2 separate regions of the Homo sapiens genome follow, and region 1 is linked to region 2. Evidence: fine-mapped expression QTL. A gene starts in region 2. The other region holds a variant in brackets. All regions are shown on one strand. Distances are between the middles of the regions. Region 1 overlaps FPGT-TNNI3K (FPGT-TNNI3K readthrough). Region 2 holds the start of FPGT-TNNI3K (FPGT-TNNI3K readthrough).

Evidence for each region. PIP is the estimated chance that this variant, and not a neighbour inherited with it, causes the effect.
Region 1: its variant is fine-mapped to the expression of FPGT-TNNI3K in fetal neocortex (Walker 2019, PIP 0.95). The same link has a PIP of 0.9 or more in prefrontal cortex.

The regions. Positions count from the first base shown.
Region 1 is chr1:74,219,554-74,224,943 of GRCh38, forward strand. The region is part of intron 3 of FPGT-TNNI3K (FPGT-TNNI3K readthrough); the gene reads left to right. Among named protein-coding and RNA genes, the nearest start is that of TNNI3K, 13 kb to the right of the region's middle. The variant GT/G (reference allele first, on the strand shown) is at 2,624.
Region 2 is chr1:74,195,054-74,200,443 of GRCh38, forward strand. FPGT-TNNI3K (FPGT-TNNI3K readthrough) reads left to right here and starts at 3,189. Exons shown (of 27, transcript NM_001112808.3): 1 at 3,189-3,307; 2 at 4,611-4,778. The coding sequence starts at 3,226. It overlaps LRRIQ3 (leucine rich repeats and IQ motif containing 3), which reads right to left and starts at 3,123. Exons shown (of 8, transcript NM_001105659.2): 1 at 2,943-3,123. FPGT (fucose-1-phosphate guanylyltransferase) reads left to right here and starts at 3,189. Exons shown (of 4, transcript NM_003838.5): 1 at 3,189-3,307; 2 at 4,611-4,778. The coding sequence starts at 3,226. RefSeq lists a silencer at 3,027-3,126.

The DNA of each region.
Region 1 (5,390 bases), 24 kb after region 2:
TTTATCATATTTTAGATATTAAATTGTTATTTATTTTCCCACTGTCTAAGATTTTTAAAAATCTACAAGTAGCAAGACTTATTGCAAATCATGCCAGATTCAAAAATCCTTCTGTACTACTAGCCCGATTAACCCTTTCTTCCTCTTTCATAGCATGTGGAAGTTTTTTTTTTTTTTTTTTGATACTCATCAAAAGCTACTTTGTAAAATAAGTTAGTTAGATTTTTGAATATCAAATTAGGTTGTAAGCTCTGTAAGCAAGGGCCCTGCCTTATACTTCCTTATAGACAAGCTGTGTCAAACCACTTTTTGGAGTTTTATTTTATTTCTAATTCAAGGACCTAACCTCAGCAGATTCTGATTTAGTTGATCACGAGTAGGTTCTTGTAATTGTAGTTTGTAAAATCTCCCTGAAAGTCTGGTTTGTAAGTTATTGCTAGAACATCAAATCCCTTGTATAAATTACTAATGCTAGCAACTCCAACTAATGCAAAAACCTCTTAAGGATTACATATACAGGAAGATGAGGAAAACAAAGAGACTAATATTTGTGTGAATTTTCCTTGCATAGAATTTCAAAAGCCTGTAGTATTTAGGCTGCAGAATTGCAATGGCCTACTCTAGTTTCACTTTACCTCTTTTCCGACCTTAGCAATATTCCTCTTACTGAAGGAATGTATTCTAAGCAATTCAATTGGTTCAGTCCCTTTCAGTTCAGTTCAATTTTATTCAGTTCAATTCATTCCAAAACAATTAAATTTATGTCTATACTTATAAGGAACTGTGGTGGGCTATTTCAAATGCAAAGATGCCTGCATTCAAGTTACTTATTGCCTGGGAGGAGGGATAAAAGCATTAATTCTATATTCTATAATAAATCCCTTAATAGAAGCAGATGCTGCATGGATAGCAACTTAGAGTAGGATTTAAATGTGTTTAATTTCTTGCCTATTCTTAAACTACATATATGTATTGTATATATGTATATATATTTATGTAATGTATACATTGTATTATATATAGTATATATGCACACATATAAAATTATAGTATAAACTTACCAAATATAAATATGTTTAGTCTTCAAAATGAAATAGTTACTAACAGCCATCTTCAGTAACATTAAAGGATGCAGCCCTGATAGATCATCTCAAGGTGACTTTGTAAATTAGTACATGTCCAGACTCTGTAGAAGAAATGAGTTTTATATAATAAGTCAAAGAGAGAATATATAGTCTTTAGGGGACCCGAACATAACTATTGTAGTTCACTAATAGGTTAACTGTTATATAGCTGCACCGAGCATCATGGGCAATGAGAGTTTCAGAAAGATAATGATGGAGTTAATTTGTGAAAACTCTCATGTGATAATATGCATTTCTCTCTCGTTCTGATATGCTTAAGGCCTACACATTTTCCAAATGCCGTGTTACCCTTTACCATAGGCCCTATCATTTATTCTCTGGCTGTATATATGAACTAGGGAAATATGGGTGATAATTTTAGGTAACTATTTGTGTACTCAGACCTAGACCTCAACCTGGGAAACTCCGGCCAGCAGTTAGGAAATGATAACACATGGTGAGCCAACTTAAACAAATAGACTCAAGACTTGTAATCAAATCCAGTATATTCTATTATGATTTAATAAACCCAGGCATCAGAAACACCACAGTTAGAATTGTCTTTGCATCATTTGCTTTGGACCTCAAGAGGGGGTGACCTTAAATTATAAAGTTACTGGTACGGGAAGAATGAGACCCCCGGACAACACAGAGGTGCTTCTAACACCTTTGCATGTACAATTTCCTTATGTAATTCAGAACATGCCTCTTAGTATTGATGACAATTTCATTTTTAAAGTTTCTAGCTTGAGCTTAAGTCCATTAATTCACAATTTTTCTTCTCCATTAGTGTGAACTTCATGTGACCAAATTATGGGTTTAAGAGACAAAAAAGGGTATGAGATACAACGGGAGCAGCAAGGACAACATGGCCAAAATGTTCTGTGAAGTTGGTAAAGACTCCTCAGAACAGCTGACATTTTGAAGCAGGAATATGACTTTCCTGGAGATAAAGGCAAGAATACTAGAGCAATCACTCTCCATATTACCAGACAAGGAAGTACAATTTAGGCTTACTAGTAGCAAGAACTCCTAAAAATGGCTTTCTGTGAAAACAAGTGGTCTTGAAATTCATAATAATTATAGTCTACTCTTGATAATCCATGTTGAAGAAGGGGAGTACAGTTGTAAGGAAAACATGAAGTTTTTCACAAATTGTAATTAAAATGTAAATCTTTTTGTATATACTTAGATACTAAACTTGAATTCTGGTTGGGAAGGGTATATTATTTGGATGCCAATAAAATGAGATATAAATCTATGAGGACATATGTTGAATTGGAAGCACTCAACTTGGGTTTATTATTAAAAGTCTGCCTGGCATTAAGGATGCACTCAAATATTACTTGCTATAACAAGTCCCTAAATAATTGGCTTCAGAGACAATAGTCTCTGCAAAAAGAAATCAGAAATCTGTGTGACCATACAAACTGCAACTTTCTATTAATTCACCAAATGAAATGTGTTGATCCACTAATGGGGTTATGAATGAAAGCTGA[GT/G]TTTTTTTTTTTTTTTTACCCCAACAGCATTATACTAACTCCTAGCACTCCTTTAAATTTTATGCAAGATGTTAAAGATTATATATGTGGAATTTCAAGTATGAAAAGAGCCAGTCTAGCTCCACAACTAAATATACAATGTATAGAAACAAAATACAATTGAATCAGAGTTAGTTCTTATTGGTGGAGTGCTGAGCTTGCCAATACGATGAAGGAAGATCATGAACCTTTGCGTACACACAAATTGCTAATGCTATTTCTGCCACTGTTATAGAGAATGGTGACAAGGGGGTTAAAAAACATAGTACATGATAACTATAATCACCATTCTGGCATTAAGAAGATATAGGAGAAGATGTAACAAAAATAATGGTAACTACAGACAGAGAGCTTACTGAGACTTTCTCTGCTTGGCGGGAATAAGCAAAGAACTGGTCCTATGGAATCACTCATCATGCTAACTCAAAGATCTTACATAAACCAAGAGGCATGGTGCTTAGATAATGCTCTTCTGTCTCAGGGCCTTCAACTTTTTTTTTTTGAGACAGGGTTTCGCTCTTGTTGCCCAGGCTGGAGTGCAATGGCGCGATCTCGGTTCAGGCATGGCATTTCCCTTAAAGTTGAAGAACTACCAGGACCGATTTTAATTTTAAGTGGCCACAGTGTAGCAGACACAGCAGCTTCCTGCTTTCTCTATCACTGGAGTCTGCTGCAGTAAGCAACAGGGAATTAGTCACTGAGTCAACAAGGGGGAACCACCCAAACTTGTTTATTTAATTTTGCTACATAATAGCTACATATCTATGGATTCTCTAACAACCACATTATATAGTCCCACTTTTCAAATCTTTAAATAATTTGTCCTGCCTATATCAAAATGTATTTCTTTTCACTTTGAGGAACAGCCACAGGTAGATAATTGACAAGTGAAAAGAAAACTCTCAAAAAGAAGAGGAAAGAGTAAAGAGGACTTGGTCATCCATCTTCGATACCAGCTCAGTCACGGTAGAATATGGCACCAGTCAGAGTCATGAGGTGCCCCTTCTAGGCTCTAGCTTCAGGACAACATTTCTAAACATACCCTGGGCCAGAAACGAACCTGCTGCCCTGAAGGGAAGGACCAAGTTTTGGCAGGACCCATCACCTGCTGACTAAACAGCCTTTGGGCCCTGAATAACCAGCAGTGATACTTAGGTTGTATGCTGTGCACTTTGGGTGAGACTCTGAGACTTGCTGGATTCAGATGAGACTCAGCACTTTTCCAGCTGTGGTAGCTACAGGGAGAGACACCTTCTACTTGAGAAAAGCAGAGAGAAAATAAAGGGGACTTTGTCTTGCAGCTTAGGTATCAGCTCAGCCACAGTCAGGAAGAGCACCAAGCTCTTAAGGTCCCTAATTCCAGGCCTTGGCTCTTGGACAGCGTTTTGAGACCTGCCCTGGGCTAGAGGTGAGACCATTGCCCTGAAAGTTGAGTCCCGGGCCAGGTGGCATTCACCACAAGCTGACTTAACAGCCCTTGGGTCTTAAAGGAACATTGGCAGTAGTCTGGCTGTACTCCTCATGGGCCAGTGATGGTGGTAGTCACTGTGTGACGTTCCTCTGCCTATGGAAAGGGGAGGGAAGAGTGGAAAAGACTGTGTCTCATTGTTTGGGTGCCAGCTCAGCCAAAGTGCAATAAAACACCAGGTAGACTTCCAAGGTTTTGACTTTAGTACCTGGCTCCAAGATGGCACCTCTGGACCTGCACAGGACCTGGAGAATCTTGCCATCCTGAAAAGTAGGACACAAACCTGATTGGCTTTCCCCTCCTCCTGCTGATTATAGAGCCCAGAGCCTTGAGTGAACATAGGCGGTAGCCAGGTAGAGGTTATAGTGGATCTTGAGTGAGACCCAGTGTGAAGCCCCAGTGGTGGTGGCCACAGGGATGCTTGTGTCATCCCACTTCCAGTTTCAGTCAGCTCAGGACAGAGAGAAAGATTTTGTTAGTTTGTGAGAAAGTAAGGGAAGAGAACAAGAGTCTCTGCCTAAAAATTCAGAGAATTATTCCAGATCTTATCCAAGACTATCAAGGTAATACCTCCACAAGTCTCCAACAGTTATAGCATTAATAGGCTTGGGGTGCCCCTGAATACAGATGTGGCTTAGACAACAACACCCAAGTACTTTGGAATACCTGGAAAGTCTTCCCAAGAAGAACAAATACGAACAAGCCCAGACAGCAAAGATTACAATAAACACCTTACTCTTCAATGCCCAAAGATGAATATCCACAAACATCAAGGCTTTTCGGGAAAACATGATGTTGCCAAATGAACTAAATAAGACACGAGTGACCAATCCTGCAGAGACAGAGATATTTAATTTTTCAGAGAATTTAAAGTAGCTGTTTTGAGGAAACTCAAAGAAATTCAAGATAACACAGAGAACTCAGAATTCACTCAGAGAAATTTAACAAAGAGATTGAAATAATTTTTTAAAAATCAAGCAGAAATTATGGAGTTTAGAAATGCAATTGGCATATATTGAAGAATGCATGAGAGTCTTAATAGCAGAACTGGTCAAACAGAAAAAAGAACTAATGAGCTTAAAGACAGGCTATTTGAAAATACACAGAGGAGACAAAAGAATAAAAAAGAATGAAGCATGCCTACATGATCTAGAAAATAGCCTCAAAAGGAAAAATCTCGGAGTTAATGGCCTTAAAGAGGAGGTAGAGAAGGAGCTAGATAGTGATAAAATATCCAAAGGGATCATAACAGAGAACTT
Region 2 (5,390 bases):
GTGGGAGAATGTTTCTCTGCACTACAGAAAGTTGAGGGGTGTGAGGGTTCCTCCAACAGGGCATAGTGAGAAAAAAAATATTTAAGAAATAAATTGAGAACAGGCTAGCTGAGTAAATAAATCGAAATAAAACAAACTGCAAAAAGACAATTTTTGCTTTCGTTGCATGTCAGGAAGGGTAACAGGAGGAAACAGTGGTTAAACAGAGCCATGAAGCACAAGGACTGGAAACAAGTACAGCCCTAGCTTGGCCTGACCACAGCATGCACTACGAGCTCCACAGTATATAATCCAGGACCCTATTCATTTGGCTTCAACTTCCTCATATAAAGAAGGGGGGAAAATTAAAACATTCTTCTCTATAATTTCCACACAACAGTCATAGTTATATGCCTGTAGTAATAAAAAAACAGTGTAACTGGCATTAACTGTAAATGGGTTGGAAGACATTTTAATGGGGGGATGAAAATGTTCTAAACCTGTACCTCAATAAAGTTGCTTTAAAAAATCTATCTCATTCTTCCTTATGGCAGCTCTTCAGATACTCTCTACTCTCCTCCTGGAAATAAAAAGCCCAAATGCCTCCACAGAATATAATTTTTCAATTTATTATAGTCTAGTATGTTCAACATCTTTTTAAAAATGTGGAATCCAAAACTAAACAGATTATTTCCTGTGTGTTTGATTTGTGCAGAATTAATGGGCTTACAGCTTGGCTGGATTGATATATTTTACTCTGGTAAAATGACATTCTGATAAATACCTGGAAAAACTCTGTGGCGAATTCTCTAGTATAATAATACTCTGGTAGCTTAAGATGTTAAACAGTCATATCACACTGTTTTATTATAGTGAATATGAACTTAAATAAAATCCCTAAACTTTTTTTGCCTCCAACAATCAACTGCCACGGAAATTTACTCCTACTCATATATATAGTATTTTTTAATTTTTTTTTTACTAAAAATTAATATTAATGAAAATTTGAGAAAAGAAAGAAAACAGAAGCCATAGCTGATAATATGGTATATTTATTTCCAGCAAATTTTGATTGCATGATATAGTCATATTGAGAAAAAATAATATCCAATTTCTATGGCCATCCTTCCCAGATCCAAGAAATACTCTAATATTCTGTATGATACCGTCCTAGATCCAATAAATACTCTATTTAATATTCTGTATGATAGAATCTAACACATCACTCTGTTTGTCTCCTCACAATTGTTACCACTGGATTTTTTATTTGGTTACTTCTTCCTTCTTTATTTCACCTTATTAGAATATACAGACCCCAAACATATAGGCTCTGCTGACCTTCACTCCCTTGGGACCTCACTTAGTTCCACAGTTAAAATTAATTCTATCTTCTTGCTGACAATTCCCAAAATTGTATCTCTAGCCCAGACCTCTCTCCTGAATTCTAGACTCGTATGTATAATGCATACAGACACATACACACACAAACTTCCATTACATATTCACTGCATACACATGTCTCTTTATTCCACATGTCCAAAATCAAATTCTGGACCCTATTACCCCAAAAACCTTCCTCAGTCGGAAACTTACCCATCTTAATTGATGGCCAATCCATCCCAAGGCAGTCATTTTGACTCCTCTTTTTCTCTTACAGTCCACACCCATTAATTCCATCAGCACATTTTATTGTTTTTGTCTTAAAAATATATCCAGAATCTGACCAACTTCTCACCATTCCCACTGCTACCATCCTGGTCAAGCCTTCACCAGCTCTCACCTGCAATATTGCAGTAACCTCCAAAGAAGTCTCCCTGCTTCTATCATTGCCTCATCCCCCATTATAATCTATTCTCCTATCTCCGAGTGATCTCTTTAAACATAAGCCAAGTCACTTCAAAACCCTGCAATGGCTTTGTTTCCCTCAAGAGTAAAAACCAAAATTCTTCCTATGGCCCTTTGTTCTCTCTCTGACCTTCTCTCGCTACTTTCTCCTTTGGTTACTTTCACTCAAGTCTCTGTATTTTCTAAATGTTCTTCAATAAGATACTGTTTTTTTAATTAATGAAGTTTTAAATGTAAAACTATGAAAGAGTAATCTAATCTGCCATTTTATCCAAATGTTTCCACTATTAGAACACGATTGTATAACAAGTCTGAGAAGAAAAACTAAGTAAATTTATGACAAGAGTTTATGGTGCCCTGAATGTCTACGTACCTAATGAAGACGTTGATACAGAGAAATCGTCTCAAAAAATCAAACGGTATGGTGAAATACCACAAGTTCTGGGTTTGGGATTGAAATATATTTCTTAAATCTTTTATTACTTACTAATTGTGATACCTTGACTAACTCACTATTCTCTGATTCAGTTTTCTTCTGTGTAAAGATGAAGTGGTCTGTAAAACCAAGAAACCTCGTGTTCTATAACAGGAACACCTTTATATAGCTACCCAAAAAAACACCTAAAAAGGCTGACTTATTCCTAAGAGTGTTATTGAACATTCTAGATTAATCTGCATATACAAAAGAATGCCAGAGAAGAAACCAAAATACCAAAAATATTTGGAGCCTGGTTGCGGACTGAATTTTATACAACTTTCAAAGACACTATTTGAGAGGCTGTCGTGTGTAGCCTACTAAGAAAAAACAGAGGGGTGGGGTGGCTCACTCTCTAGGAACCACAAACTTAAGGTTCCTAGAAAGAGCAGAGATTTTAAATATTCAGACTGTGTATGTATCATGACCCAGGGTTGGGGGCAGATGGCCCGGGGTGGCGGGGGAAAGGAGAGATGGCGGAGATCTTCTATCAGGCTATCCTGGGGAACTGCTCCAGGCTGAAACAAACCACCAGTTAGGACGAACCGCCTTTGATGTGAAAGCTGGGAAGCTAGAATGTAGTTTCGCCTTATCCTTAGCGGGTCGGTTCTAACAATTTTGTCACCCAAACTGAACCACTCACCGGGTCAACTGGGCTGCAAGCCCTTATGAGTTGGAGACAAGTGGCCCAGCCCCAACACAGTCAGACAAATCGCTGGGCGGCCATCTGCTCCTGAGACCGTTGCTAGAGAAACAAGACAACATCCAAGTTCTCCACATCATGGTTTTCCGGGCGCCAGCCAAGGCGCTCCGGGGGCGTGGTTACGTGGGCGACGCACGGAGGGGGCGGGTCAGAAACAACCGGGCGGAGGCGCACCCCAGGGCGCATGCGTGCTGTGCGGCGCGGTCTCAGGGAAGGTGGGGCTATGGCAGCTGCTAGGGACCCTCCGGAAGTATCGCTGCGAGAAGCCACCCAGCGAAAATTGCGGAGGTTTTCCGAGCTAAGAGGTACCAGAGAAGGCACCGGAGTTCTCCTGGGCAATGCAGAGGGAGGGTGCTTTTACGTGCCAGGAGGTTTGCTGGACTGTCACTTCCCGTTTACTTCTCATCTGTAGGCCTATGACGCTCCCCAGGAGTAGCTAGCTAATAATCCTTTTGAGTTTTTTATTCTTTTCACTGTCCCTGCTTGACATGCTTGTTGCTTACTTTATTCTTAGTAGTATAGATATTAAAAATGAGGGCGGAGGAAGAAGAAGAAAATCTTACTAGTGAAGTTATGCATTGATTAGCTCATTAATAAAAGTTGCTTTAAATAAATCTAAAAGATACGAAGCACAGTATTTTGAACTTTATGAGTAGATGCCAGCCCCCTATCTACTTCACGCTTTACATTACGTTCATCTACTTCTGTAATGTAACCGTTTGTTGAGGGAGTAACAGAACATGGAGGAATTATGGATTAAAAATTAAAAGGAAGAAATTTGTTATCAAAAAATTGGCTATGACACTTAATCCCTGTACACCTGTCTAATAAAAGTGATTATATTTGTGTTGCAGTGACTGCTTAAAAAATACTGGGACTAATTCTTGGATAACAGTAAAACTTTCAGGACTATTAGATTCTAGCTGACAAGTTCTGTTTGTTAACTAATTAAAATGCTAAATCATTTTGTTTATCAATAAAGAGATTCCAACTGTCTACTAAAAGTGCACACTGTCTTTTAAAGATGTCATCAGAGAGTTGGGACCTTCTGTTATCCAGAATTTTATGTTATATTCTAACAGCCTATGTAAGTTTGCATGGTTCATCTTAAAGTAATAGAAAATAAAGTACCCACATTTATAAACAGCAACATTGAGGGAAGGGATCTTTGGGTTGTGTCTTTCTTAGTCACCTAACACCAAGTGTCCGTGATACATAAGAATTGATTTGCAAAGCTGGAGATTTGTTTATGTTTATCTCCTCTTCTTATTGAAGAATTGAGGCAATAGTCTTTGGCAAGTTAAAAGTCGCTCTCTTAATCAAGAAACATTATGTCATTCAGAATTTATAATTAAATTGGATTGCAAACCATAAAAGGAGGGAGTGATCTAAAAGAAAAAAAAGGAACTTGTGAACAGTCTTCATTATAACTATTTTGAATCGTATTAATGCACCACTAATTATTCCCTAACTTTCAAAAGCCAAAGATACATTTTGGAAGATGATAATGGATATTACCTTCTTTATCATCTTTCTCAATAGGCAAACCTGTGGCAACTAGAAAATTCTGATAATTTTTGTTTTCATTTCCTTGCTTTTTCCAAATAGGCAAACTTGTAGCACGTGGAGAATTCTGGGACATAGTTGCAATAACAGCGGCTGATGAAAAACAGGAACTTGCTTACAACCAACAGCTGTCAGAAAAGCTGAAAAGAAAGGAGTTACCCCTTGGAGTTCAATATCACGTTTTTGTGGATCCTGCTGGAGCCAAAATTGGTACGCGCTTTATGGTCAGTTTTATAATATAGGTCCTAAGCAGAATAATCATTGAAGAAAAGGTTTCTGTGACTTACAGTGTATAAGCTGCATATCTCTACCCACAGCTTTACAAACTTTAAAATTTGAACATAAATTGACTTTTTTTAGAAAGATAAAAGGAATAGCAACTGTTCTTACCCATTATGACTTACCTTGAAAAACTTCCAGAATGTTACTTAAAAGAAAATTTTATTAGTTTTAATGAAATTCACACTATTCAGATAGGAATACTCCTTTGGACCTTATCAGTAGAACCCTTGAGGTCCTCTCCACTCCAGAGTTCCTCCAGCAATTTACATGAAGAAAGCAATTAGTGGGAAAAAATACTCTTGACCTCTTAGGGACATAATGCAGAATGCAAAAGAACACTGTCACATGGCTTAAATATAATACATATATTTGAAAACCCTAGTTTAGGTCAACTTTGCCCTTTGACCGTCCATTGCAAATAGAAATAAATGCTGTTTTTCTGAATGCTCTTTTCTATGTGATACTTAAAGTTGAAGCCCCCTGATACCAGAGATAAGATATCTGTATATGACATTAATATGACATTAGCATTATTCTAAT